3 separate regions of the Homo sapiens genome follow, and regions 1 and 2 are each linked to region 3. Evidence: fine-mapped expression QTL. A gene starts in region 3. Each other region holds a variant in brackets. All regions are shown on one strand. Distances are between the middles of the regions.

Region 1 (9,974 bases), 44 kb after region 3:
CATTATCAAGTATTACATACTATCCATAATTGCATGTGCTATGCAGCACTTTTATACAACTGGCAGGGCAGTAGGTTTGTTTATACCAACATCTCCACAAACATGGGAGTAACGCACGTGCTACGACATTGCCGTGGCTATGACATCACTAGGCAATAGGAATTTTTCAGCTCCATTATAATCTCTTTTATTGTTTTTTTTGTTTGAGATGGAGTCCTGCTCTGTTGCCCAGGCTGGAGTGCAATGGCGCAATCTCGGCTCACTGCAACCTGGGTTCAAGCGATTCTCCTGTCTTAGCCTCTCAAGTAGCTGGGATTACAGGCATGCGCCACCATGCCTGGCTAATTTTTGTATTTTTTTTAGGAGAGGCGGGATTTCACCATGTTGGCCAGGCTGGTTTTGAACTCCTGACCTCAGGTTATCCGCCCTCCTCGGCCTCCCAAAGTGCTGGGATTACAGGCGTGAGCCACCGCGCCCGGCTTCCATTATGATCTTGTGGGACCATCATCATGTACGCCATCCATTGTTGACTGAAATGTTGCTCTGTGGTGCGTGAAGGTATCATTTCTAATGTTTTGTTCTGTTTTCCCTCTTTTCTGCCTCCTTGAGTGTTAGTGCTCTTTGCATTCAGAGCTCCTCTTCCTTGGCGCTGGTTTTCCTCTGATGTTTGGCGACTTCTAGTTCTGTGCACATCATATCTCATGATGCCGGTGGTCTGCGAATGGGGCTTCTGAAACCCACCTCTGAGGGCAATGGGGCTCAGGTGGGGCTGCAACAGTCTCTTTGCGGGAAGACGCGTGGCCTCTGGCTCTGTGGCATGAGTGATGAGGAGCTATCCAGAGCCTTTCCCCCTTCTTCAGAGAGTCCCCCTTGGCTGCATTCTGGGCTGTGGTCTCCTTCACTCTGATCTTATCTGTCCTCTGCCTTCCGTATTTCGGGGAGTTGTCTTCGTTTCTGATCTGCCAAGCTTGCCCCTTCTTGGTCTCCAGGCCTGTTACACATTAATTATTAGTTTTACCAGTGCTATTTTTGTTTTGTTTTGTTTTGTTTGAGACGGAGTCTCGCTCTTTTGCCCAGGCTGGAGTGAAGTGGGGCCATCTCAACTCACTGCAACCTCCACTTCTCGGGTTCAAGTGATTTTCCTGTCTCAGCCTCCCCAGTAGCTTGGATTACAGGTGTGCACCACCACACCTGGCTAATTTTTGTATTTTTAGTAGAGACAGGGTTTCACTATGTTGGCCGGGCTGGTCTCAAACTCCTGACCTCAGGTGATCTGCCCACCTCGGCCTCCCAAAGTGCTGGGATTACAAGTGTGAACCACCACTCCCCGCCTAGCTGTACTTTTTATGTCTGTTAACCAACCTGTGATTTCCTGCTTTTCCTGCCAGCAGTTGTTATTATCTGTCTTTTTGATTCGAGTCATTCTAGTGGTTGTGAAGTGGTATCTCACTGTGATTTTGACTTGCATTTCCCTAATGGCTAACGGTGTGGGACATTTTTCATGTGTTTATTGGCCAGCTGTGTATCTTCTTTAGAGAAATGTCTATTCCAGTCCTTTGTCCATTAAAAAAATTAATAAACTATTTCTGGCTGGGTGCAGTGGCTCACGCCTGTAATCTCAGCACTTTGGGAGGCCGAGGCGGGTGGATCACCTGAGGTCAGGAGTTTGAGACCATCCTGGCCAACGTGGTGAAACCCCGTCTCTATAAAAATACAAAAAATTAGTTGGGCGTGGTGGTGTGTGCCTGTAATCCCAGCTACTCAGGAGGCTGAGGCAGGAGAATCACTTGAACCCAGGTTGCAGTGAGCCGAGATTGCGCCATTGCACTCCAACCTGGGTGACAGAGTGAGACTCTGTCTTAAAAAAAAAAAAATTAATAAACTATTTCTTAGAGCAGTTTTAGGTTTACAGGAAAATTGAACAGAAAATACAGAGTTCCTATATACCCTCAACCCCCTTCCCAATCTCCCACAGTTTCCCCTATTTTTTGTTTGAAACAGGGTATCACTCTTTTGCCCAGGCTGGAGTGCAGTGGTGCAATCACAGCTCACTACAGCCTCAACCTCCTGGGCTCAAGCGATCCTCCCGCCTCAGCCTCCCAAGTAGCTGGGACTACAGGCATGTGCTACCATGCCTGGCTAATTTTTGTATTTTTTTTTTGTAGAGACGGGATTTCACCATGTTGCCCATGTTTTATAGAGATGGGATTTCACTATGTCGCCATATGAGGGCAAATGATCCTCCTGCCTCGGCCTCCCAAAGTGCTGGGATTAAAGGCGTGAGCCACTGCACCCAGCCTCCCCTGTCACGAACACCTTGCATTAGTGTGGCACAATTGTTAGCATTGATGACCTGATAATGATGCATTATTATTACTAACTGAAGTCCATAGTTTACAGCAGGGTTCACTCTTTGTGTTGCCCATTCTAGGGCTTTAGACAAACGGATGATGACCACGTGCCCACCATCACCGTGGCATCCAGAATATTTTCACTGCCCTAAATGTGTCCTGAGCTCGTTGGTTCACCTCTCCCTCCCCCTGAACCTCTGGCAGCTACTGATCTTTTTACTGTCTCGATAGTTTCATCTTTTCCAGAAATGTCATGTAGTTGGAATGACAGTGTGTGGCCTTTTCAGACTGGTGTCTTTCATTTAGCAATATGTATCTAAGTTTCCTCCATGTCTTTTTTTTATTTTTTTGCATTTTAAAAAATTGGTACATTAATTTAATTTTTAATCCAATTTTAGTGGTCACCAGGGGGTTGAGCTGGGAGGCGGAGGCTGCGTTGCGGACTGCACCTGCCCTCTCCCCCTCATCTCAAGAGCTATCTGGAGAGACGCCTTCCTTCTGTTCCCCTCTGTGACCCCTGTCTGTGTCCCTTAGACGACCTCGTGGAGAAGACGCCGTGTGCATGGAACTCCTCCCGTGTCTGCGAATGTCGACCCGGCATGTTCTGTTCCACGTCTGCCGTCAACTCCTGTGCCCGCTGCTTCTTCCATTCTGTCTGTCCGGCAGGGATGATTGTCAAGTTCCCAGGTCAGTGTCCCCACCCTTAACTCAGGACAGAGATCTATGCTGTTGCTGCTGCACCTTCCGCCCACCCCAGTGCACTGTTGACTTCCGACCTCCCGCTTCCCGGAGACTGTTGGACAGATCATGTCTCCTTTGGCGATGGGCCAGGGATGTACCCAGCACCCAGCCCTTCTGCTGCCCTCCCCCACCTTGTGTTCCAGGTGCAGAGAGACCCTGCTGTCCCCTGGCATAGACCTGGCTGGAGGAGGTCTTGCTTTGGTTTGAGGCTCAAGGCAGAAGTTATCTGATGCCCCATAAACAAGAAGGGAACCTCAAGTCTCTGTCCTGGGAGTTTCCTAGAAGATTGGGGTTGGCTTCCCCCTTTCAGGTTCAGGGCATTGGGAGTTAGAGGTGCTGAGAGATCTGGCCCCAGGCTCAAGACTTGAGAAACTTGGGTTTCTTTTCCAACTTATCGTGTGACCTCAGACAAGTTTCTTACCTCTCTGACTTCTACTTCTCTGATAGTACAAGGTGTCAGGGCTGCTTTTAACCAGAGAAGGGGTATGGGCCACAGAACCTGTCTGGGTGGAGTTGGGACCATCTTCCAGAAGGGAGGCATGAGGAGTGGGTGGGCTTTGGAGCACAGCACAGAGTGGCTGCCGCAGTTGCAGACTGTATGGAGCCGGGGAGATGGGCTCAGAGGCAGCCCTGTGTCCACTGTCCACTGAGGAGAAAAGTGCCACAAAGTGCCTGTGGTCCCTCCCCCAACCAGGTCCTTCTCTGGAGTCCCATGCCCTGTTGTGCAAACCTGGGGATTGGCAGTCACCCCCAT[C/T]GCTACCACTGCCTGCCCCTTTTATCCTTCCCTCGTTCCCTCATCCTTCACAGCCAGCCCATCCTCGAGTCCTGTAGATTTGGCCTCCAATTATCTTCCCCACCTTCTCACCCCGAATACCTTCTCTTATACAGCCCCCATGGCAGACAGCCAGAATGACCCTTGCAAGACCAAATCTGAATCTGATCCTCTCTCTCTCTCTCTCTCTCTCACTCACTCACTCTCTCTCTGTCTCACACACACACACACACACACACACGGATATATACCTGAAATGCTTCAGTATCTTCCTGTTACTCTAAAGATAAGGACACAAGGCCAGGTGTGGTGGCTTACGCCTGTAATCCCAGCACTTTGGGAGGCCAAGGCAGGCAGATCACTTGAGGTCAGGAGTTCAAGACCAGCCTGGCCAACATGGTGAAACCTCATCTCTACTAAAAATACAAAAATTAGCCAGCCCTGGCAGCAGGTGCCCTGTAATTCCATTTACTCAGGAGGCTGAGGCAGGAGAACCACTTGAACCTGGGAGGCGGTGGTTGCAGTGAGCTGAGATTGAGCCATTGCACTCCAGCCTGGGTGACAAGAGCAAGACTCCGTCTCAAAAAAAAAAAAAAAAAAAGAAAACTCCAGGGACTCACCACGGTGTCCTTCAGGTCCCAAGGCCCCCAGTTGACCTGCCTTCTTCTCTTCATGTTTCAGAGCCTTCTTACATTTATTTTGTACATAATGTCCAGGGCTTTTAGCGGTTCTTGGCGGGAGGATGAGGGGAAAACGTGTCTAAGCCATCTTCCCAGAATCAGAGTCTCAGGATGTGATCCCAACACAGCCCCCTCCTTTCTCCCAGCTTCAGCTCTCAGCACCAAGCCCTCACTCTCTGGGCTCCACCTGCGCTGCCCTTCTTCCAGGTTGGAGGACGTGTGTGCTTCTCTGTCCCACCCGCCCTCTGCACGTGCTGTTCTCTCTGTCGGAGACACCCTTCCCTCCCCATTCACTTAGTCAAATCCTACTCAGCCCTGAGCTCTCCACCCCACTTCCTCAAGAGGCCTTCCCTGGCCTCTCACTAGGGAAGCTGGTAGCACTGTGTCCTTTGCAAATGTGGATACATACCTCTCTCTGTCTCTTGGCTTGATCAATGTCTGTCTCCCTCCCTGGCTGGAAGCTTCCTGAGGGCAAAGACCATGCCCCTGGTGTCCATCAACATCTCCCCACTGCCTGATCAAATGCTAGGCATGGCACCTGCTCCCCATAGAGATTCATTGAATTAAGATATGGGGACACCTGACAGGGAGCTCCGAGCTGGTGGGGGGGTGGAGTTCAAATCTGGTCAAATTCCAGGGTCGGGGGAGAGCGCTCTGCTAAGGAATGATGGAGGCCTCCACCCATAAGCAGGGGAGAGTGCTGGAGTGGACTGGGCAGCAGATACCTAGGATTTTGCAAAGATTTGCAACTGTGGGGCATGTTCCCACCCGCCTCTGGACCTCGGTCTCCCCATCTCTCAAATGAGGAGGTATAACTGAAGGCCTTGGGGGCCTCTCCAAAAAGGCCAAACTTCCCAAAAGTTTCCAGCTCAGAAACTTCTGCATCTTTGTGAAAAACATCTTGAGTTCAGTTGTTCCAGCCAAGGCTTCCTGCTGGAGGGACTGTCTGGGCAGTGTTCCTGAGACTGCCACACAGCGGCGCCAGAGGCCTCCCTTTGCTGCCCCTGGACCCCAGCTGCCCAATGCAGTGCCCCTGGCCCGTGGCACGTGGCCACGCACTTAAAATGCAGCTAGGGGCCGGGTGCGGTGGCTCACACCTGTAATTCCAGCATTTTGGGAGGCTGAGGCAGGCGGATCACTTGAAGTCAGGAGTTTGAGACCAGCCTGGCCAATGTGGTGAAACCTCGTCTCTACTAAAAATACAAAAGTTGGCCAGGTGTGGTGGCGGGTGCTTGAAATCTCAACTACTTGGGAGGCTGAGGCATGAGAATTGCTTGAATCCGGGAGGTGGAGGTTGTAGTGAGCTGAGATTGTGCCACTGCACTCCAACCTGGGCGACAGAGTTAGACTCTGTTTCAAAAAAAAAATCCGATAAAAAATAAAAAAAATGCAGATACGTCTGCATTGAGAAGTGCTGTGTGTACAATATGCACTGGATTTCGAAAACTTAGTATAAACAAGAATATAATTAATTATTTTTTATATTGATTGCCTGCAAACATGGTAATATTTTAGATATACTGGGTTAAATAATGAAAATTAATTGCACTGATTTCTTTTTACCTTTTAAAGTGTGGCTCCCAGAATATTTGAGCTGGCCTGTGTGACTCGCATATCTCTGTTGGACAGCACTGTTTTAGAAGTGTTCTAATCTCAGCTGCCAAACCCTGGTTAATCTCTGGGGTCCCCTGTGGACTCACCCATGGGGCAGCTCTCCGGGGTTGTTGTTTTTTTTCCAGCTGTAAAATAGAAAGCAGTTTCTGCCTCCAGTCAGCCAAGCCCCACGCTAAGAGCCTTCACTGGCTGTCTCTCCTGAAATTCTCACGTCTCCATAAGACAGACAGTATTAGCCCCATTTTCCAGGTGTGGAAATCGAGGTCCGGAGATGGGAGGTAAATTGCCCGCGGAGACAGAGCAGGAAATGTCTAAGCTTAGGTGTCATCACTCCACCATGCCACAGAACACGAGAGGTCAGCATTGCTCGCGCTCACCTCCACGGAAAGCTTCAGAGCGAAGTCCCACACATACAGGCCACCATTTTTTTATTTTTTTTTTTTTTGTGATGGAGCCTCGATCTGTCACCCAGACTAGAGTGCAATGGTGTGATCTCAGCTCACTGCAACCTCTGCCTCCCGGATTCAAGTGATTCTCCTGCCTCAGCCTCCTGAGTAGCTGGGATTACAGGTACCTGCCACCATGCCCGGCTAATTTTTTGTAATTTTAGTAGAGATGGGGTTTCACTATGTTGTCCAGGCTGGTCTCGAACTCCTGACCTCATGATCCGCCCACCTCGGCCTCCCAAAGTGTTGGGATTACAGGTGTGAGCCACCGTGCCTGGCGACATACGGGTCACCTTCTAAGTGTTGGGATGGGAGTCCAGATGGGTGTAAGGACATAGCATTTACCATATGTCATGCAATGTGATGGGCACCTCACGTGCACTCTTCTGTTTATCCTGACGACAGCCTGGTGAAGAGTGTATGATTATAGTCATTTGACTGGGCTGGGCACGGCAGCTTATGCCTGAAATCCCAGCACTTTGGGAGGCTGAGGAGGGTGGATCACCTGAGGTCAGGAGTTCGAGACCAGCCTGGCCAACATGGCGAAACCCTGTCTCTACTAAAAATTAGCCGGGCGTGGTTGCAGGCACCTGTAATCCCAGCTACTCAGGAGGCTGAGGCAGGAGAATTGCTTGAACCTGGGAGGCAGAGGTTGCAGTGAGCTGAGATTGCATCACTGCACTCCAGCCTGGGCGACAGAGTAAGACTCTGTCTCAAATAAATAAATAAACAAGTAAATAAAATGGACTTTCCTGGCACAGTTAGGACATAGCAGGCAAACTGAGGGGCACTGGCTAGACGATGTGTGTGTTTTCTTCTCCACTCTGCTTCTGTCCAGCATTCTTCAGGACTCCTTGGATTGCATGTAGCAAAATCCCCAATTTTTTAGCACATGTAGCTTAAAAGTCTGGGGATAGCTCTGAGAAGCTTCAGGCATGGCTGGATCCAGGGCTCCATCTTGCCCCATCTCTCACCTCTATTTCCCTCTCTGTTGGTTCATCGGCAAGATACTTACAAGCAGCTCTGCCCAGCGCCAGTGGGAAGACAGCTTCCCTTTCTTACATTTTTAATATCCAAAACCAAAACCTTTAAATCCCAAACCAGAATCTTTAAATTCTACCTCACAGGCTTGGGTCACATGTCCGTCCCTGAACTGGCTCATCGTGGCCAGAGGAATGCAACGGATTGATTGGTCCAGCCTGGTCTCATGGCCACTCGGGAAAGGGGGTTCAGTCGGTCCCAACCCCTAACCACAGATGCTGAGATCAGAGGGAGAGTAATTCCCCAGGGAAAGATAGGCTGCTTTACTCTGAAGGGGAACGGGTGCCAGGCGGGTGCCACCTCCAGATGACTGCTGTGTTTTCCAAGGGCCCCATCTCCGACTCTGGCCTGTGGTAGTGAAGGGTGTATTCCGGGAGACTTTGGGTCCCCAACACTGATTCTGAAGGCACTGCTGTCCCCCCTGCAGGCACGGCGCAGAAGAACACGGTCTGTGAGCCGGCTTCCCCAGGGGTCAGCCCTGCCTGTGCCAGCCCAGAGAACTGCAAGGAACCCTCCAGGTGACTCCCTGGCTTTGCCTCCTCCTCTTCCCCCAAGCTGGCTTTCAGATGAGGCTGCCCCACCCCACAGGACGCCCATGGTACAACTGGGCTGGGGGTGTAAGCGGGATTCAGCCCATGGTGTCAGCACTTTGGGGTGCCTCTCTGCCAAGCCCCTCAGATCATTTGAGGCCCTAGGGTGTGCCCAGCCCTGCCCTGAGCACATGGGAGACCCACAGGGCTTAGAAAACACAGGCCTTGCTCCCAGGAGCTTACAGTGGGCCCGCCAGAGGCAGTGGGCCAAGGGCCTGGGACCCCATCTCTGTGGAAACTGTTACTCGTGAGCACAGGCCTCCCTTGCCCCATTGGCAGAATTATCAGTCCCATCTCTGGCTTCTTCCCCAGTGGCACCATCCCCCAGGCCAAGCCCACCCCGGTGTCCCCAGCAACCTCCAGTGCCAGCACCATGCCTGTAAGAGGGGGCACCCGCCTCGCCCAGGAAGCTGCTTCTAAACTGACGAGGGCTCCCGACTCTCCCTCCTCTGTGGGAAGGCCTAGTTCAGATCCAGGTAATTTCCCCATGAAGCTGTGGGTCGTCTCCCTGGGGTGCTCGATTGGTGGATGGCCCATGAGTGGGGGTGTTTGGAGCAGGCGGGCAGTGATCTGTGGTCTTTTCCTGGTGGGGAGAGAAGACGGTGGTAAGGTATGATCTAGGGCTGAAAGCATTGAGGGGCAGAGGTAGACACCAGAGGGCTCATTCATTTGCCAGCAGTGCAGAGGGCCTGCCTTGTGCCGGACACCCGTGCCCCATCTCTCCCTCTATTTCCCTCTACGTTGGTTTGTCAGAGGGAAATGGGTCCCACTCTGCTGTTGTGACACTTGCGACTCAGCTGGCCAGCCTCTGCACGTGTCCATCTGATGCCCTCCTGGTCTCCATGGCGAAGGGTCGACCCTCAGTCATTTTTCTTTTTCTTTTTTTTGAGACGGAGTTTCGCTCATGTTGCCCAGGCTGGAGTGCAGTGGCGCAATCTCGGCTCACTGCCACCTCCACCTCCTGGGTTCAAGCGATTCTCCTGCCTCAGCCTCCTGAGTAGCTGGGATTACAGGTGCCCACCACCACGCCTGGCTAACTTTGTATTTTTAGTAGAGATGGGATTTCACCATGTTGGTCAGGCTGGTCTCGAACTCCCGACCTCAGGTGATCCGCCCACCTCGGCCTCCCAAAGTGCTGGGAGGATTACAGGCGTGAGCCACCGCGCCCAACCTAGTCCCATTTTATTACTGAATAGCCCTCCATGGCGTAGATATGCCGAGCTCTGTTTATCCAGTTTTTGAATATTTGGGTTGTTTCTGCCTTTTGACTATAATGAAGAAAGAAAAATACATCTTTGCGTGTATGTGCTTTCCTTTCTCTTGGGTTGGTTTTGTAAAAAAAATGGATTTGTGGGACTTCTAACAATTTTGGGTTGGAGCTCTTTTCCTATAGTTGTACCTTCTCCCGCTCCATGGCTTTGCTTATTCTCTCTATGATGTCTTTTGTTTGTTTGTTTGTGGTTTGTTTTTTTGAGGTGAGTCTTGCTCTGTCGCCCAGACTGGAGTGCAGTGGCGTGATCTCGGCTCACTGCAACCTCCGCCTCCTGGGTTCAAGCAATTCTCCTGCCTCAGCCTCCCGAGTAGCTGGGATTACAGGCGCCTGCCACCACATTTGGCTACTTTTCTTTTTTTTAGTAGAGACGGGGTTTCACCATGTTGGCCAGGCTGGTCACAAACTCCTGGCCTCAAGTAATCCACCCGCCTCAGCCTCCCAAAGTGCTGGGATTACAGACGTGAGC
Region 2 (9,974 bases), 88 kb after region 3:
GCCCAGCCATTGAACCAGCCATGCACTCAGTCCAGGAGCCAGGGTGGATTTCCCCATCCTGCCCAGCGATGAGCGGACCCCTTCTATTCTCTGGCTGTGCTCACGTCCAGGTTGGCAGATGGACAGAGCTCCCTGCTACTCAAGGTAGCAATTCTCAGGCTGTGACGACACCCCCACACACCTCTTCCTAAACATTTGCGATCAGAGAGGGACAGCAAGTGGTAAGTATCAGATGGAAGCTGTTGCCTTCAAAGAAAAGCCATTGTTTCCCAAGGCACTTTTGTAGGTGGTAAAAACCATTCTACAGTTCACAGAATCTCCACGGCTCGGGTCAGTCCCTAAAACGGAACGAGGGGACCTCCCTAGAGCGTCTCTCGCTCCATCACGACCTCACCCTCCAACAGTGAGGTGTAAAAGACCCAAGGCTGGGTCTTGGTCATCTTTGTCCCATGGTCACTGGGCACTGATTGGTTGGGCTAAGTAGAAATGAAAACCTGTGTGGGGATGAGAGGCGGCTCTCCAGCCACAGTTCCTCGGGTGCCTTCTCTCTTCCCCCCACTTCCTCGATCCTCTGCAGTGGGGGGGCAAGTGTGGGGTGGGGGTTGCTTGGGCCAGAATATGTGGGGACATCAGATTCACAGCCACGGCCCAAGAGAAAAGCTTAGTCAAGGCGAGACTGTTCAGCTTCAAGGGGGGCTCCTTGGGCTGAAGGAGAAGCTGCTGAGGACACCTCAGGCCCCTGCACCCTCCACCAGGCCCCTCTGCCAGGCACCTCCTCCTAAGCCAGCACCCCATGCTGGCCAAACACCCTGGAACCCTTGCCCCTGGCTGACCCAGGGGAGCAGGTGTTCAATGTTGGGGCCATGGGTGTGAGCCAGGCACAGGGCAGAGAGGCTTGCCTGCCATTCTCTGCAGCTCAGACACAACAGCAGCGTGCGGATGGTGATGGCGCTGCGGGGTCACACACAGGCTCGAATCCCAGCTCTGCCATTTATCAGTTGCATGAGCTTGGCTATGTTCCATGATCTCTTTCAGACTCAGTTTTCTTGTCTGTGAAATGGGGGTGTCAGTCTCTACCTGACGGGGTTGTGGGGCTTCCCTGACATGCCACTCGGTGTGTGGCTTGTGCTGAGTGGCAGGTTCTGTCCTTATTCCAGCCTGGTGGCCGCTTGTCAAGAGCGAGCCCTTCCTATGTCTGCAGAATTCAGCCCATCAAGGTTAATCAGAGCTTTCAGGCCAGCCTGGGAACCTAGCCACCCTTGGGGCCAACTTGCTGTGGGAAGCCCCGCAGTGGGCAGGCCTCTTCTTGTTCTGTGGGCTACCCCAAGAACCCTTCAGATCACAGTCATAGGACTGGCTCATTATTCGACGTCTGTAACTCTGGGCATGTCGGCGAAGTGCTGCGGGTCCCTCCGGAGGGACATCTCACTCGTGGTTCTAGCACATTCCAGATTGCACCACATTACTGTTCGAGGGCTTTCCTCAATTAAAGGGTCTAGCTGCTGAGGACTAGTGGGGCACAGACTTGCTCTCGTGGGTCCTGTGTCTGGTGGACGGGACAGACGGTGGCGTCATCAAATCAGTACACAAGGTCATTCCAGAGTCAGATCACGCTGTGAACCACAAGGAGTCTGAGCCAGGTACTGTGGCAGAGTGGGAGGGGAGGGCCACCACTAGCTAGGTGGTCAGGGCAAGCCTCTTTGAGAAGGTGCCCTTTGAACTTGGCCTGAGTGATGTCACAAGCCAGCGAGGTCTGGAAGGCAGGGAGCTGAAGTGGGCACACTCCTGCCTCGAGTTTCAGGAAGAACACAGTGGTGGAAGAGGCACGGTGGGCGAGGGAAAAAAGGAGGTGAGGGGGGAAGGCCTGGGGAGGAGGGCCTGGTGGGCCATTGTGATTAGGCACCTAGATTTTATCATAAAAGTACTGGTCTATGTTTCTTTCTGTTTTCTTCCTAGTAGAACAATAAACATCCTGGTATTATTTCAGCAATCAGTGAGAAAGGCCAAACCAGGGGCGGCAAAGGTTGTTTTAACCTATTTTGGAGGGAAGTTGGGGAAACAGGCAGCAGCTGCTGGCAGCCAGGAAGCAGTTAGATGGGTTTTCTCAGAAAGAACTAAGACAGCATTCCTGGTGATGATTGTAGCTATGGGTAGGGTTAGGAGTCTGCCGGTCTAGCTTCCCCCTTTCTCTGGGTATCTTCCAGAGAGTAAAAACCAAACTGAAAAACCCTGGGAAGCCTGGAGGCCTTTGTTTGTGTTTTGGTGTGGTGATTGTTTTCCCGGTCATGAGGCAGAGGGATCATTTCAGTATCACAGGGTCAGCGGTGGCCTGTGCTTTTTACCCTTTAGCCCTCATGGAGGCAGTGGCCATTTCATGACGGTGGCATGGAGCTGTGGCTTCCGGCTCGACAAGCTCCCAGCTGCTTGGTCCCAAGCAAAGCCCTTATGTGCGTTCAATGTGGGTTTTCTGGTCTGCAAAATGGACCTAATGGGGCCAGATGCGGTGGCTCACGCCTGCAATCCCAGCACTTTGGGAGGCCGAGGTGAGTGGGTCACTTGAGGTCAGGAGTTCGAGACCAGCCCGGGCAACATGGCAAAACCCCGTCTCGACTAAAAATACAAAAAGTAGCCAGGCATGGTGGCATATGCCTGTGATCCCAGCTACTTGGGAGGCTAAGGTGGGAGAATTGCTTGAACCTGGGAGGCGGAGGTTGCAGTGAGCCGAGATCGTGCCACTGCACTCCAGCCTGGGTGACAGAACGAGACTCTGTCTTCAAAAAAAAAAAGAAAAGGAACTATAAGGCTGAGAGGGACTGTGGAAGTCCAGTCTGGGCACGTATGCCATGTTCAGTAAATGACAGCCATCAAGAGCAGCATCTTAAGAGCTGAGAGTTCGCCTAGGCCGCATTCTTTGTACATCTGGGCTTCCTAATAGAACCCTGGACAGTAGATAGGCTGGGTGGCAGCACTCCCTTTTACAAACTGAGGCTCGGGGAGTGGGGGGGAGCGAAGCAACTGGCCCACTGCCACACAGCTGGGAAGTCCCAGAGCTGGAGTTCAACCCCCAACTTTGTGATTCTAAATCCCTCCCCATGCCCAGGTGGCCTGGCTGCCTCTGTGGTCAGGGGTTGTGTTCATATCGTGGTCATCCCCTGGCACTATGCCTTCTAGATAAGTTTCCTTTCATCTTCAAGTCACCACAACTGAGAGATAGAATAGAGGCTGATTTTATTCCTCCCTTTATGGGAAGGCAGGGACAGTTGCAAGAGGCAGGGTAACCTGCCCAAGGTCAAACTCCAGGCTGGGTGTGGCTTTCTGACTGCTCTGACCGGACAGGAAGGACACAGAGCTAACCCAGCCAGGGCCTCCTTCCTTGACACAGCTTTCCTCAAAGGTGTGTGTGATTTTTTTTTTCTTTCTTTCTTTCTTTCTTTTTTTTTTTTTTTTTTGAGACAGGGTCTTCCTCTGTCACCCAGGCTGGAATGCAGTGGCACAAATACAGCTCACTGTAGCCTCAACTTCCTGGGCTCACGTGATCCTCCTGCTTCAGCCTCCCGAGTAGCTGGGATCACAGGCACGTGCCACCATGACTGGCTAATTTTTTTTTTTCTTTCTTTGTAGAGACAGGTCTCTCTATGTTGCCCAGGCTGGTCTTGAATTCCTGGGCTCAAGCAATCTTCCTACCTTGGCTTCCCAAAGTACTGGATTACAGGCGTGTGATTCTGAGGTCCAGGGAGACTCGGGGCTGGGTTGAGTCCAGGGAATCTCTGGGGGAGAACTGCCTGAGAGTGGAATTGCCCTTTCCATCCCCAGTAACACCTCATATCCTGCTCACTGCCCCACCTGAGGCTCCCTGAAGGAAGACGATCAAGAACAAGCCTCCCATTTTACAGATGGGAAAACTGAGCCCCATAGAGGCAAAGCAGTTTTCCCAGGGTCCCAGCTTGGTGCTGTGTGATGGAGATAGCTCTAACTGTAGCTGTCAGTTGGGGCTGGGGTAGGGGAAAGTCACTGTCTAGTCCAAGGGAGCAGTAAAGATGACATGCTGATTTTCATTCTTCCTTTAAAGAAAAAATTGATGTTAAAAGTAACTGTGGTGAGAGGGTTGGGTTCTTACTTACAAGGCAGCTTTGCAAGAGTAAACAGAGTAGACAAAAATATCCCATCAGCTGGGCTTCTGCAGCTTCACAAGCTACTGATCCGTGCAGTCAGAGGGCCCCAGGTTCAGAAGGGCCCTGGGCTTGGTTTAATGCTCTGCTGTCGCCATCTTGAAAGTGATGAATAATTTTTGGCAAGGGGCCCTGTGTTTTCATTTTTCATGGAGTTCTACAAATTATGTAGCTGATCTTGCATGGGGGCAGGGAAATCGTTAATTCAGAATTCACTTAATGCCAAAGCATTTTACCTCCATTGTCATGTGACCTCAGAGGGACCTTATAGATGAGCACACATGTCCCCATTTTTAAGAAGTGTTAAATGACCAGTAACTGATGTAACTGTTCCAGTCATCTCTTGCTACATAACAAATCACCTCAAAACTTAATAGCTTAAAACAATGGTCATTAATTTTGCTCACAAATCTGCAATGTGGCCTGGACTTAGCAGGGGAGGTGCATCTCGGCTCACATAGTACCAGCGGGGGTGATGAGATGAGCTGGAGAATCCACCTCCAAGAGGGCTGGCAAATTGGTACTGGCTGTCAGTTTCTCTCTGTGGAGCTTCTTGGGCTTCCTCACAGCATGGCTGCTGGGTTCCTGGAGCCAACAACTCCGGGGGCAGGAAGTAGAAACTGCCAGCGTCATAAAATTTGACCCCGGAAACTGGCACTGCATCCCCTTTGCTGCATTCCAGGTAGTCACAGAGCCCAGACTCAAGGGGAGGGGACACAGATCCCACCCCTCATTAGGAGGAGTGTCAAAGAATCTCGAGATCTTATGTGTCAGCAGGAGCACTTCACATACTGTCTCATTTTAGCCTCTCGGTAATTTTGCCATTATTGTCCTTGGAGTTGGCTCAAGGAAGCTACATAACCTGGTGGAATCCCAAGTTCCTCTGGCTGGAATTTGGATCCAAGCTGGTCTGTCTCCAGAGTGTGAGCTCTGGACTGAGCAGCTGACCTGTGCATTCAGGGACCCATACAGTCAGAATGTGGCAGGACTGGAAAGCAAGCTCACATCTGTCTGATTAGAGAACATCTGAGCTTGGTACCCATACAAACTAGGCCCTATCTAGTTTTTAGATAGGGAAATCAAGGCTCTGAGAGGTCTTGCCAGGCCTCTCCTGAGGAAGAGGGCAGGGTCTGGGACCTTCCAGGGCAGGATGGGGCCCCCAACTTGGGTTGCACAGAACCATGTCAGGAAGTCACATAGAGTTGTGGGTAGATTATGCAAGTACAGGCTGTC[A/G]GGAGGGATGTTGTTTTTCACTGCAATTACACTTCACTCAGGAAATACAGCTTCTGCACGTACTGAGGGAGGGTTCCTCACCCTGTGCAGAAGACCTCCTGGTGAATACCGGGGCACTCGCTGGGTGACCCTGGGTCCTCTGGGCCAAGTTCATGCATCGAAAGTTCCCTGAGAAGCTCTTTGTGCCCATCTGGGTTGGGCTTTGACAATAGAGTTGAAGAGGCTTTATTCCTGCCATGCATGGAGTCACAGGTTAGTAAGAAAGATGATAAGAGCTGTACTTGAGGCTTTCGTGTGCTCTCACTTAAACCTCACAGTGCACTAGGAAGTAGTTATTACATTACCCCTATGTTACAGATGAGGAAACCAACACGCAGAGTGGCTAAGCCAGTTCCCCAGGGTCACACAGCTGCTAAGTGGCGCAGCTAGGCTTTGAACCCAGGCCACCTGGCTGGAGTCTGCGTCCTCACACACTTGGCCATGCTGCTCCATTGTGGCTCAGGCCGAGGTCACCACTGTGCTGAGGCCCCAGCCCTGAGTCCCAGACCCTGTAGAACACTGTGCAGGCATCCATGGGGCTCAGTGAATGCACAGGGAATGGAATTTGCTCTTGGTTTTTATCCCACCTTTCCTTTCCAAAGCCCAGCTGTGGCCAGGCCTCTCCCTCACAGAACCTTCTATGACTCCCTAGTGCCTACATGCCAATGTCTGCCAATCCAGCTTTGCTGCTACCTCCACAGCTCCCATATCTAAACCTCTCCTGAGACCCGACTGTTTCCGCTCAGTCACCAAATACAGAGGGCATATCCTCATCATGAAATCTCTGCTCAGCGCTCCAACCCCTGAATTTCCAACCTCATCTTTCTCCTCCTCCTCCAAAAACCCTTCCAGGACACCCAGGCCCAGGACCTCCAAGCTCCCACAGCACTGACTGTGAAGGGGGACTGGAGGCCAAGTTCTAGAAGTCTTGCAAAAAATATCTCTGAAGAAATGCATTCATTCATTCATACAGCCACTCATTTAGTCACTCAAGCAACAGATCTGTATGTAACACCTACTATGTGTTGGGCACTGTGCTTGGCGCTGGGGAACACAGTGAAGTGGGGCAGTGGCGGGGATATACAGTACTGCTCTCAGGGAGTCACAGTCCAACTGGGAGACCAACCTAGAGTCTGGTCATGGCCTAGAGCATGATATTTGCTTTGATGGAGAGCAGCTTGGGGTTCATGACCCTAGTGGATGGCACCTAGCCCAGATGGAGGCAGGTCTCTGCTTTCCCCTCTGTAGAATGGGTTTAATAAGAGCACCTACCCCAAAGAGATGTTGTAAGGATTAATTTCATCCATTAATTTGTTCAATAAATATTTGTCAAGCTCAAACTCCGTGCTGGGGTGCTGGGGACACACAGCCCTGCCCTCTGCAGAGTGACAAGAAAGAGTATTTGGGATAACATTGGCTGGTGGTAATTGCTGTAAAGAAAAAAAGAAAGTGGTGTGTAGGCCCTCAGTGTGGTGAGGTGTGTAGCCAGGGCTTGGGGATGTAGCACCTGCTGTACAAAGGTCTGGGAGAATGTAGCGATTCAGGGTGTGCAGGGGGAAGTGAGTAGTTATGATCATGAGTCTGTGGTAGACATCGCCCCATCCTTGCATTTGCATCTCTAGGTTTCTACAGAAGAAAGGGGGCAAGGTGATGGAGAGAATTTCATGGGCGGAAATTGTTCTACAGGAGCTGGGGAGGTAGGCTGGCAGGGCTGAGCCGGCTACTTGGTGGGAGGTTGCAACAGCCTCAGGACGGGTGGAGGACTGCAGGGGAACTGGAGCCCAAGGGGGTTTCCTTCCAGGGTGAAGGGGAAAAGCAAGGCTGGGCACTTTGGGAACTTCTCAGGGAAACCCTCTCCTGTACCCTAGGGGACCTGGGCTCCATTCTGGAAAGGCAGAATACATGACCTCCATCACGTTTTGGGTCTGCACTCATTAAGCACTTACTAGATGCCAGGCACTGTAGAGTCTCCATCTCAGATCCTTACAGCACCCCTGTAAAGCAGAGGCTATTTATCCCCATTCTACAGATGAAGAAATGGAGGCTCAGGGAGGTAAAGTGATTTGTCCAAGGTCATGGTTGCGTACCAGTCAATGGCCTGAACAGAGACTTGAACCCAGGTCTAGGTGATGGCAAAGTTGATGCTATTTCTCCTTTTGATATACCCCAACTGTCTAAAGCAGCCCTTTTTTTTGCTAGGCTTCTTGGTGTTTGAAAATTTACCACTCATTCCTAGGAGCTAAAGGTTCCTGGGTTCCTCCTTGGGGCACATGTCTAGGAGCAGGATCTCGATCTGGTGGCAGAGGGGCAGCAGCTGCTCCGTCTGGCATACAGTAGGTGCTCAGTAAGTCTGCGGGGCAGGCAGGACAAGCCTGGGTTGGAAGGAGGTCCAGTTTCTTGGGAGTGAGAGCCTCAAGACCAACTTCACCTGAAGGACAAATGAGAGGTGGCCGAATCACTGCCAGCTACTTCAAGAAGCCCCTAGGACACTCCAGCCAAGGTGCCTTGGTCCCTTTTCTAAGTCGCCTGCCCACCCTGCCCAAGCTCCTGCGGGGAGTGTGCCCACTGTGACTCATCCACGCCCAGCCCTGCCCAGCTCTCACTGGGGCAGCAGTAGGCACACATACTCGTAAAAGTCTGAATAAGTGAAGACTGGGAAATTGCACCAGGGAAAAACTACTTATTTCTTCCTCTTTTGAATTGGGGAGGGGAAATGTTGCGGGGGAAATGAGGTCAGTGACGTGGTGAGCATTTCATGCTCCTTACTGATGAGCAGAGGGCCGGTATCACGTGCTGCCTTCCTAGGGAGGGCTGGGTAGTGCGTCAAGGAAATGGGCCCAGAGCTGTGTCTCGTCCAGTCTAGCAGGAAACTGCCCATCTCACTGTGTCACTCCCTTCTCTGTCCTTGCTCTAAGCCTCTACCCTGACTGCCCTTGCTCTGAGCTGAAATCTCACTAATGAGAAAAAAATGTGCTGGTTTATGCCTCTGTGGGCTGGCTGGGCTGGTAGGTCCCAGGGGGCAGCATGGCCTGGAGGAAACCGAGTGCACGGGGCAAGGATGATGTGCACGAGTGGTATGTGACTCCCAGGGCTCACAGCCTCATGCAGCCCCTCCCTCTGAGAGTATAGATGGGGAAACTGAGGCCTGAGAAGGCGAGAGATGTGCCTGAGGTCACACAGAGAATCCGTGGCCCTCAGCACAAGCACCCAGTTTGCTGGTACTTTAAAGATAAAAATAAACAAACTTTATAAATGGAAAAGATGAATAAAAGAAGAAACGAAGTATAAGGAATATGATAAATATAATAAAAATTACACACAATCTTGGCGAGGCACAGTGGCTCATGCTAGTAATCCTAACACTTTGGGAGGCCCAGATGGGCAGATCATTTAAGGTCAGGAGTTCAAGACCAGCCTGGCCAACATGGTGAAACCCCATCTCTACTAAAAATACAAAAATTAGTTGGGCATGGTGGTGCGCGCCTGTGGTCCCAGCTACTTGGGAGGCTGAGGCACGAGAATCACTTGAACCCAGCAGGCGGAGTTTGCAGCAAGCTGAGATCACGCCACTGCACTCCAGCCTGGGTGATGCAGCCAGACCAAGACCTTGTAACAACAACAACAAAAGTAAAACAATCAGTATTCCTTAAAAAAAAAAAAAATTGCACACAATCCCATCATCCATGAAACTCCTTTAAACATTTTGGTTTCTTCCCTCCTTTCTGAGTAGTTTTTTAAAATTATCTTCAATCATTTATTTATTTATTGTATTTTCTTTCTTTCTTTTTTTCTTTTTTGAGACGGAGTCTCGCTCTGTCATCCAGGCTGGAGTGCAGTGGCGTGATCTCGGCTCACTGCAAGCTCCGCCTCCCGGGTTCACGCCATTCTCCTGCCTCAGCCTGCTGAGTAGCTGGGACTACAGGCGCCCGCCACCATGCCCGGTTAATTTTTTTTTTTTTTTTTGTATATTTAGTAGAGATGGGGTTTCACCGTGTTAGCCAGGATGGTCTCGATCTCCTGCCCTCATGATCCACCCACCTCGGCCTCCCAAAGTGCTGGGATTACAGGCGTGAGCCACCTGCGCCCGGCCCTATTTATTGAATTTTCTAGAGATAGGGTCTTGATCTATTGCCCTAGAGCTGGGATCTAGATCCAGAGAACCAGCAATCTGAGAAAGCTGTTACCTCTCCAGCCTAAGATTTCATTTGAAAGCGTTTCATGGCTGGAAGTGTCTTTGAGAATCTTTGGTTTAGCTCATTCCAGTGCTTTTTCTCCAATGCCAGACCACCTGCAGCCAGGGCAAGAGAACCCCGTGGGCTGGAGAGATCCTGGAGGGCGTTAAGGAGGCAGTGGGGTTGCAGCTGAGCCATTAAAGACGACAATTCAGCATCAGGAATGGGAAGGGGTCCTGTTTCATTGTGGGGGATTGTTTGTATCTGAACTGCCTGGGGGTCTAGGTGGGAGACCTCTGGGGAGGGCTTTGGAGGAAGCATCTGGGGAAGGTGAGGTGAAGACAGGCTCAGGAAAGCTGTT
Region 3 (9,974 bases):
TGCCCGATTTACACAGCTAGTAAATGGCAGAGATAGCATTTGACCAGGGCTGTCTGGTTCTAGGACCTCTGGCAGCCAGAGGAACAGAGCTGTAAATGCTCTGCAGGAGCCGCCAGGCCCAGAGGAATCCAGGCCTCCCCTCTTCCCCACCGGGGCCTTGCAACAAAAGGACTTCTAAGCAGATCATTGACCCTAGCCCCCCCATTTTACAGATGAGGGCACTGAGGACCCCCAAGAGAAAGTCATGCAGCTAAATGCCAACCTGGGCCACACTGGGGCTCCTGACTTTCCATCTAGTCTTTCCACACCTATCAAGCTGGAGCCAAGACTGAGCCCAAATCTGGTGCCAGAGGTTGGGGGAAGTGTTCCCACAGAGACTGTGTGACCAGCAGGCTGGGCCATGGAGGTGTAGGAAGTGGTCACCCACCTGACATCACCTGAGGGGCCAGGAAAGGCCTCAGACCCCCAAGGTTCCCTCCTGTGGGCCTGCCCTGCATGAGTCACCCCTTGGCTGGAACAGTGGATGTCATGGTAGCATGTTTCTCAGAAAGGGGAACCCCCAGCCATGAGCATTTTAGCTGTGCTCTGGAATGGGAGGTCTGGGGCCATAGCAGGGGCCTGGATAGGCAGTGGGAGGGGGCAAAGGGAAGTAGAGCCCTTTCCATGTCTTTCTTGCATTTCCAAGAGCTTTCTATGTCCATATTTTATTCAAGGCCCATTACAACCTTCAGAGGGCAGCCCAGTCATGCTTCAACACACATCTGGCAGAAGGGGAAACTGATGCTCCCAGTGTTCCCCAGCCCCTGGTATTCATGCCCTTGTGCAGTCCGCTCCCACACTGGGGAGAGCCAGCCTGTATAACCAACAGAATACTGTGGAAATGACAAAATGTGACTTCTGAAGCTAGTTCATAAAAAGCATTGTGACTTCTGTCTTGCTCACTTGGGGTCACTTGCTCTGGAGGAAGCCAGCGCCATGTTGTGGGGACACTCAAGCAGCCCCATGGGACTGAAGCCTCCTACCCACAGCCGTGGGAGTGGCTAATCCTGGAAGCAGATGCTCCAGCCCCACTCAAGCCTTCAGATGACTGCCGCCCTGGCCCACATCTTGATGGCAATCCCTGAGCCAGCATCACCCTGTCAAGTCTCTCCCAAATTGCTGACTCACAGAAACAGCGCAATATAATGTTTATTGTTTTCAGCCACTAGGTTCTGAGGCACATAGCAATAGATAATAATACATTCAGAGAGGAGAAATGACTTCCCAAAGTCACATGGCCAGACCAGGACTTATACATCAGTGCTCTTTCTCCTGGGGAAAGCAAGGGTGAGAGAGGCCTGGGGAGGGAAAAGAAGGCAGCTGAGGCTTCAGAGTCAGACAGGGTTGGAGTAAATCCTAGCCCTGCCACCCTCATGCTGTGTGACCTCAGGCAAGTGACTTAACTACTCTGAGCCTCAGTTCATTTATAAAGTGGGGATAGCAATACTGACTTGAAATCTTGATGCCAGGATTAAATGTCTGACCAAGGGCCTGGTACACAGCAGGAGCTCAATGAATGACACTGTTAATGTTACTATGCAGAATCTTTAAGAGCATCCCCGAGGGCCTCACAGCCTTCCCTCCTGCCCATGGGAAGGGGCACAACAAACCTAGTTCTGGAGAGCCAGTGCCCCTTTGCTTAGTTTCCAACCAGGCTTGGTCTAGGGGTGTCATGCTTGTGGGTGTGCATTGCTGGGGTTCACCCAGGCAGCTGAGAACCCCTAATGTTGGTGCCTCAAAAGGGCAGGGAGATCTGGGGATGTGAGTTGGAGGGAGCCTGACATGGGTCCTGCCGATTAGGACTGGTGGAGGCCAAGGGTGACCCAGAGAAGCCTAATGGAGAGTCCTACTGCTACCAAGGCTCCCAAGAAAGTTGCTCAGAAAAGGTGCACCTGCGGCTGGGCGCGGTGGCTCTTGCCTGTAATCCCAGCACTTTGGGAGACCAAGGCATGCAGATCACTTGAGGTCAGGAGTTCAAGACCAGTCTGGCCAACATGGTGAAACCCTGTCTCTACTAAAAATACAAAAATCAGCTGAGTGCAGTGATGCTCGCCTGTAATCCCAGCTACTCGGGAGGCTAAGCATGAGAATCGCTTGAACCTGGGGAGGGGGAGGTTGTAGTGAGCCGAGATTGCACCACTGCTCTCCAGCCTGGGCAACAGAGTGAGACTCCATCTCAAAAAAAAAAAAAAAGAAAGAAAGAAAAGGTGCACCTGGACCTATTGAAGAAGAAAGGCCCCAGCCTCCCCTCTCTGATTTCCAGCCTCCTACCTGCCAGCTGCTGCCTGGGCCAGAAAGAACCCTTTATCTGCTAAGGGTATTTTGGGGCCATTTGGGACTCGGGTTCCCAGCTGTTGGAGGAAGTCCCTGAATTTCCTGAACCAAGTTGGGACCTTGTGTCTTGCTCAGCATCACTTTGGGGACACAGATTCCCAATTCCCCTTGGATGGCTTCCTACTGCATTCACCTTCCTCACCTTTCCTCCAAGAAGCCCACCGAGCTGAGACTGTGTGAGCAAGCGCTCCTCGCTCCCCAGTCTCCTGTAGCCCCTCGGGCTTGGCTTCCTTCCACAGCTTGCTCTGGAGGGCCCCACGACCCCACAACAAGGACTGCTGCTGTGCCTTGCACAGAGCCTAGGGACTTCCCCTTCTACTCTTCACAGCACTTTCATACCACCTGAAACCTGCCGAGGGCACCCGGGGGCTCTATCCACTGCCTGCTTTTAAGAGTCCCATGAATGGCTGTTTTCCTTGGTTGCTACCAGCCCATCTCCCCCTGGGATCCAGCTGGCTCCCTGGCCACAAAATGTGCCTTCCCTCCACTTAAGCCATGTGTCAGCTACTTTCCTGGGCGCCCTGGGGGAATTCTGGTTCTCAGGAGTACACAGTTTCCTGGGGCAGAGGGATGCATGAACCAGTCATTATGGTTATGACATGATGAGATCAGATCTAGAATTGCGGCACAAAAAATGACAGAAACCACTTTTTGACTGGGAAGAGGGCTGGGGGACAGGAGACACTGCCAGGAAAGCAACAAGGAGGAGGTGGCATTGGAACAGGTTAGGAAGATGATCAGGAGTCTGTGTGCGTCCCAGGTGGAGGCCAGCGTGGGCAAAGGCTGGCAGGGGTGAGAAGGCTGCACATTTGGCTGGAGTATAGGTCCAGGAGAAGTAAAAAGGCACAAGGGAGGAGTCAGCCCCTGCCAGGCTGTGAGCAGACTTGTGCACCCTTGCATTTGGGTGACTCTGACCCAGGGGAGCCACTGCAGGGGTTCCTTTCCTGCAGAATGGGCATAAAAGTAGGACCTTGTTCATGGGGTTTTCATGAGGATACAAGAAACCAATGCCTGAAAACTCTTAGCACAAAATAAGCACTCAAAGGTAGCTGTTATTGTTATCATTAAATGAATAATATAATTTTCTACGTGGTCCTCTGCCAAAACACACACCATACTTCCGCAAGGGTTCTCTACAGGGGAGTGTCTTGGTGAGATGTGTGTGCTAGAAAGGTCTCTTTGGAAATCCATGGAGGGAAGGATATGAGGGAGAGACAAGTTTCCACAACATCTATAGATTTATCCTTTTTAATGGATGTGCAATATTCCATTAAATGGATGTACCACAATTTCCGTAATCATTTCTTGTTGTGAATCTCAGAGTATTTCAAAAATTTATAAATAATATATAAGGAAATGTTACTGTATAGTTTTCTTTTTTCTTTTTCTAGTTTTCCAGTTAAATTATTTCCTTAGTTTTTCTTCACTGAGGTGAAATTACTGAGCCACTCACAAGTAGTACACATTTTTTTTTTTTTTTGGCTTTTGCTAAAAATTGCCATACTGCTTTCTGAAAAGGGTTGTAACATTTACCAGCAGAGTATGAATGAGTATTCTGGTCTCACCACAACTTTGGGGTTGGATTTACCAAAATTGTTTTTATAAAGCAAAAAAAAAAAAATGATGATTGTATAGATCTAAAAGGTTATCAAAGGTTGCTTGAATTTGCATTTCTTTAATTACTAAAAAGGTTAAACTTATAAAACTTGTAATTGATTTTTATTTGTATTTCTCCTTGTGCAAGCTATTTTGATGCTGTTGTTCATTTATTTATTCAAAACACCAGCCCTTCTCTCTCTCTCTTTTTTAATTAAACAAAAAATAGAGATGAGGTCTTGCTACGTTACCCGGGCTGGTCTCAAACTGGGCTCAAGTGATCCTCCAACCTCGGCCTCCCAAAGTGTTGGGATTACAGATATGAGCCATGTCACCCAGCTGCCAGCTTTTCTACTTTTGTAGTAGAAAGCTCTGGACTGGGAAGCAGGTGTCTTGCGTTCCTCCTGTCCCTGTCTGGTTCTGTCATTATCACAGGCAGGTCACTTCCATAATTGCTTACCTCATTGTTTAACATAGTCCCAGCTCAAACAGCCTAAGATACTGGGCCTGGTACATCCAGAGGAGAGTCTGGAAGTGGGTCTCTTGGGAAGGGGCATGATGGAGCAGTTTTCCCAAGTGGAGTCCAGCAGCCCCAGGAGGGTTGAGCATGGAGTGGTCAGTTGTGGAGACCTTGCTGGGAAGTTCCTGGTGGGAGGTTATCACTCCTACCCTATAGGGCCTTCACCTGATGGAGGCCTGGTACCTCGCAGGACAGATCAAGGTAGACACAGAAGCCAGAGTATCCTTAGGCTATTCTGGGCTCAGGGAAAATAACTGGCCCACCCTTAATTAGAGCACCTAGGACTGCCTGCCTATTTCTGAGCCTTGGCTTTCACATCTGAAAACCAAACAAAATCAGTCAAAAGAACCCTTGACCTGTGGCCCACCCAGCAGATGCTCAACACAGACACACGGAATGTGGAATAAAAGGAGCAAAGAGAAAACCCAGGGGATGGGGAAGCACTGGAAGGGAAAATCATTCACCAGCAAATGAGAACATAGTACGAGGAGGCTTGAATCATTTCTGTTAGGAGAGAGTGCCAGCCGCCTCCTCCAGGAAGAAAACTCTAAAGGGTCAGGCCTCAGGGAAATAAAATGATCTATACCATCCATCAGTTCCTCCAACATTCAGTCCATCCATCTACCAATCCACCCACCCATTTACCCACTCACCTGCTGCTCATCCATCCATCCATCCATCCACCTATGCATCCATCCATCCATCCATCTATGCATCCATCCATCCACCCATCCACCCACCCATTTACCCACTCACCTGCTGCTCACCCATCCATCCATCCATCCATCCATCCATCCATCCATCCATCCACTTATGCATCCATCCATCCACTTATGCATCCATCCATCCATCCATCCATCCATCCATCCATCCATCCACCTATGCATCCATCCATCCATCCATCCATCCATCCATCCATCCATCCATCCATCCACTTATGCATCCATCCATCCATCCATCCATCCATCCATCCACCTATGCATCCATCCATCCATCCATCTATGCATCCATCCATCCACCCATCCACCCACCCATTTACCCACTCACCTGCTGCTCACCCATCCATCCATCCATCCATCCATCCACTTATGCATCCATCCATCCATCCATCCATCCATCCACTTATGCATCCATCCATCCATCCATCCATCCATCCATCCATCCATCCATCCACCTATGCATCCATCCATCCATCCATCCATCCATCCATCCATCCATCCATCCACTTATGCATCCATCCATCCATCCATCCATCCATCCATCCATCCATCCATCCACCTATGCATCCATCCATCCATCCATCCATCCACCAATTTATCATCCACTCACTGATTCATTTTACAGCAAATGCTTATGAATGGGGATGGGTGGGTGATGGTTGCTTTTTCTGCAGTCTCCCTAGGCCAGTTGTCCCTTCCAAAGAATCTCAAGGGCATGGGAGAAGGTCCTGGCTGATCGTGTCAGGGACAGGAAACTACTCACATTTCACCGTTTCTTGGGGCAGGAGTGGAGGTGGGGGCATTGGAACCCCCTTGGGGCCTCCTAATATCCTGTGAGTCCCCACCTCCAGGGCCAGAAGCTGCCTGCCTCCGCTCCCCGCAGCCCAGGTGCGGCGGGCAGCACACTCCCTAGAGCCAGGACCACTAGTTCCGTCAAATCCGGGGCGGGCCATTCAAACAGCTAAGGGAGGCGTCTCCTAGTGTGCCTTTTCCTGAGTCATCTCTGCACGTGTTTGCCCCCTTTTTTCTTCGCTGCTTGTAGCTAAGTGTTCCTGGAACCAATTTGATACGGGAGAACTAAGGCTGAAACCTCGGAGGAACAACCACTTTTGAAGTGACTTCGCGGCGTGCGTTGGGTGCGGACTAGGTGGCCGCGGCGGGAGTGTGCTGGAGCCTGAAGTCCACGCGCGCGGCTGAGAACCGCCGGGACCGCACGTGGGCGCCGCGCGCTTCCCCCGCTTCCCAGGTGGGCGCCGGCCGCCAGGCCACCTCACGTCCGGCCCCGGGGATGCGCGTCCTCCTCGCCGCGCTGGGACTGCTGTTCCTGGGGGCGCTACGAGCCTTCCCACAGGTAAGCGGGTGACGGGCGCCTGGGGAGGTGCCGGCGGTCCAGAGCCCGGACAGTGTGGGGTGCGTGGGACGCAAGGGAGGACACTCCTCACCCCGTTCCCTGCCCAGCTGGAGTGAGGGGGCGCGGGTGACAAGCAGGAACACCGGAATATGCTAGCACCCACAGGTGGGAGGCTGGCTGAAGGGCTAGTGGTGGGGGGCGCCTCCTTCTCACCCCGCGATGGCTGGGACTGATTCATTCATTCAGTGTGAATTGGACTGAGAGCACTGCCATACGCGGGAGGCGCTCTTTAGCCCGCCTACCTGCGGGCCCGTCGGGGTCCTGGGCAGATCAGGTGAGGCCGTGGGAGTAGTGGGCAGGCCAGATGGGGCCTCCCTTAGCCATGGGAGGTTGGTCGTCCGCGCTCTACCCTGTTGTGTGCGCGGTCCCGTTTGCCCCCTTCCTAAGCTGGCCACTGGCTGGAGGGTCAAGGAAAGGAGGGAGAGTTGGCTGTGGGTGAGAGTGGGGTGAGGGTGCAGGACCACCGGGATTAGCTTCCCCAATCCGCGTCCGGCAAAGCAACGCTGTGGATTGAATTCGCTGGAGCACGTGGTGGGCATTTGCCCCTGGAAGAAGGTCAGTGGTGGGGCTGAAGTCTATGGTGGGTTGCCTCAGAATTGAGTTTGGGGACTGCTTTAGGAAAACTGAGCACTTACCAGTGGCCAGCGCCAAATTAATCACTGTGGGGAGAATGCAAAGTAACCAGGCGTGTTTCACGGAGCCCAGGGGCTGCTGGAGAGAGAGGCCCTCAGCTGACCCAGGACCCCGGTGGACCCCTGCATAGAACCATAGTAGGTGCGAGTGGATGCCTGCTGAATGATACAGAGGGAAAGGAAGGAGCAGGCTGTTAGTCCAGCGGTGGGTCACGGTGGGGGAGAGGGAAGACCCAGTTCCCCTTTAATCCTACAGGAAGAGAGGACTCCATGCTATGGATCAATTCTAGTCATCTGAACCTTAGGCAGTGGGAGGAGAGTGGCAGAGTGGGCTTTAGGCAGGAGGGAGGAACTATGCAGCAAAGGAGGAACTATGCCCTCTTCCATTTCCAATGGGCAATGTGAGGTATTCCCCCTTTCCCCCCAAGAGGGCAGAGGGGACAAAGCCCTGGCTAGAGACACCCTGTCCCAGCTCTGCAAGCCCTCACCTGGGGGAAGGTAAGAGTTTGGAGTGCCAAGGTCTTGGGGAGATGAAGGGAAGGAAGAGATGTGAGAGGTGCTTGGGGGGCTTTGCTGGTTTGGTTTGGCAGCTGAAGCTCATGTGCTTCCTTTCTGTAGAGTGAAGCCCCCTCCACTTTTTTTAATGTTAGAGACAGGGTCTCACTCTGTTGTCCAGGCTGGAGTGCGATCATAACTCACTACAGCCTGAACTCTCATACCAAACCTTTTTTTTTTTTTTTTTTTTTTGAGACTGAGTCTCACTCTTGTTGCCCATGCTGGAGTGCAATGCTCGATCTCGGCTCACTGCAACCTCTGCCTCCCGGATTCAAGTGATTCTCCTGCCTCAGCCTCCCAGGTAGCTGGGATTACAGGCATGTGCCACCACACCCGGCTAATTTTTGTATTTTTAGTAAAGATGAGGTTTCACCATGTTGGTCAGTCTGGTCTCGAACTCCTGACCTCAAGTGATCCTTCCGTCTCGGCCTCCCAAAGTGCTAGGGTTACAGGCATGAGCCACCACACCCAGCCTCCCATACCCTTTTTAAAATAAAAATACTATATATTTAATTGCACAAGGAATATATAAATATATTCTCAAAGCAAAACTGTAAACGCTACAGATAAAGCCAAGTCTTTTGACACCGCCTCATCCTGATCCCTTCAAAGATATAACCACCATAATTGATTTGGTGTGTTTCCTTTGCAGACCTTTATAAATGCATGTCCATATTTATATTGTTTTAATAGACATATATATAGTTTTCCATATACTATACCCTACAGTACATATGGTTCTTCATTTGGCTTTATAATGTCTATGAGGCATCTTGGTGAGCTTTCCATGCTGAAACTTACAGATCCTCTGCCTATCTTTTAAAATGCTATGTGATCTTTTGCCAAATGGGATGTTTCATAGTTTATTTATGTCCTGGATGGATGGGTGCTAAGGTTGCCACCATTGTTCTTTCTTTCTTTCTTTGTTCTCTACTACAGTGCACAGCCCTATATGGATGCTTTTGGAAATAAATGTCTGTGATTCTTTCCTAGACAAGAGACTGAGAAGAGAATACTGAGGTTGCAGGGCGAAAATGCATTCAAATTAAAAGACACCACCGAACTGCCTTCCAGGGTGGCTGGACAATTTACCCTCCCGCTAGCAGTGCAAGAGAGTAGTAACTTTCCCACATCCTAACCGACATTTGATCTTATCAGCATTTTAATTTTTCTCAATGTGATTAGTGAAAAGGGTTATATCCTTGTTGCCTTAATTTGCATTTCTCGCCTACCGGGGAAGCTGAGCATCTCTCTGGGCTCAGGCACTAGGTCATTTCTTGGCAGGAGTCAGGGAGTCCTTGGGGAAGGGACTACCTGCCCAACACAGTACTCCTTTTTGCCCCTCAAGCCTTCTCCCACTTCTGTTTTTTCCAGTAAAGGTTCGGGAAGCTCGTTATTTTAAAAAAAAAATCCCAAATTAGGGCTTGAATTTCCTTGAGTTTAAAATTTTTTTTTTTTTTTTTGAGATGAAGTCTCCCTCAGCTGCCCAGGCTGGAGTGCAGTGGCACGATCTTGGCTCACTGCAACCACCCTCTCCCAGGTTCAAGTGATTCTACCGTCTCAGCCTCCCTAGTAGCTTGGATTACAGGCACTTGCCATCATGCCTGGCTAATTTTTGTATTTTAGTAGAGATGGGGTTTCATAATGTTGGCCAGGCTGGTCTTGAACTCCTGACCTCAGGAGATCCATCCACCTCGGCATCCCAAAGTGCTGGGATTACAGGCGTGAGCCACCGCCCCCGGCCTAAATTTTTTTTTATTTTTTGGGACAGTCTCACTTTGTCTCCCAGGCTGGAGTGCAGTGGCGCAATCTCAGCTCACTGCAACCTCTGCCTCCTGGGTTCAAGTGATTCTCCTGCCTCAGCCTCCTGAATAGCTGGGATTATAGGTGCCTGCCACCTCACCCAGCTAATTTTTGTATTTTTAGTAGAGATGGGGTTTCGTCATGTTGGTCAGGCTGGTCTCGAGCTCCTGGCCTCAAGTGATCCTCCCACCTCGGCATCCCAAAGTGCTGGGATTACAGGCGTGAGCCACCGTGCCCATCCTGAAGTTCTTTTTTCATCTCTATTTGATTTTTCCCAAGACGCCATCATTTTTCGCCTGGTATTCTGAGGCAGGAATGCTTTCTTGCTAGCTGGCACCATCTGAGAGTTGGCCTCTGATGCTTCG

What was found.
Region 1: its variant is fine-mapped to the expression of TNFRSF8 in whole blood (TOPMed, PIP above 0.99).
Region 2: its variant is fine-mapped to the expression of TNFRSF8 in whole blood (TOPMed, PIP 0.96).

Annotation. Positions count from the first base shown.
Region 1 is chr1:12,101,494-12,111,467 of GRCh38, forward strand. It overlaps TNFRSF8 (TNF receptor superfamily member 8), which reads left to right. Exons shown (of 15, transcript NM_001243.5): 4 at 2,886-3,038; 5 at 8,073-8,163; 6 at 8,548-8,711. Among named protein-coding and RNA genes, the nearest start is that of TNFRSF8, 43 kb to the left of the region's middle. The variant C/T (reference allele first, on the strand shown) is at 3,847.
Region 2 is chr1:12,145,227-12,155,200 of GRCh38, forward strand. No RefSeq gene overlaps it. Among named protein-coding and RNA genes, the nearest start is that of MIR7846, 17 kb to the right of the region's middle. RefSeq lists enhancers at 1-62, 123-182, 1,263-1,342, 3,196-3,325. The variant A/G (reference allele first, on the strand shown) is at 5,403.
Region 3 is chr1:12,057,103-12,067,076 of GRCh38, forward strand. TNFRSF8 (TNF receptor superfamily member 8) reads left to right here and starts at 6,201. Exons shown (of 15, transcript NM_001243.5): 1 at 6,201-6,559. The coding sequence starts at 6,497. RefSeq lists silencers at 5,644-5,876, 6,464-6,593.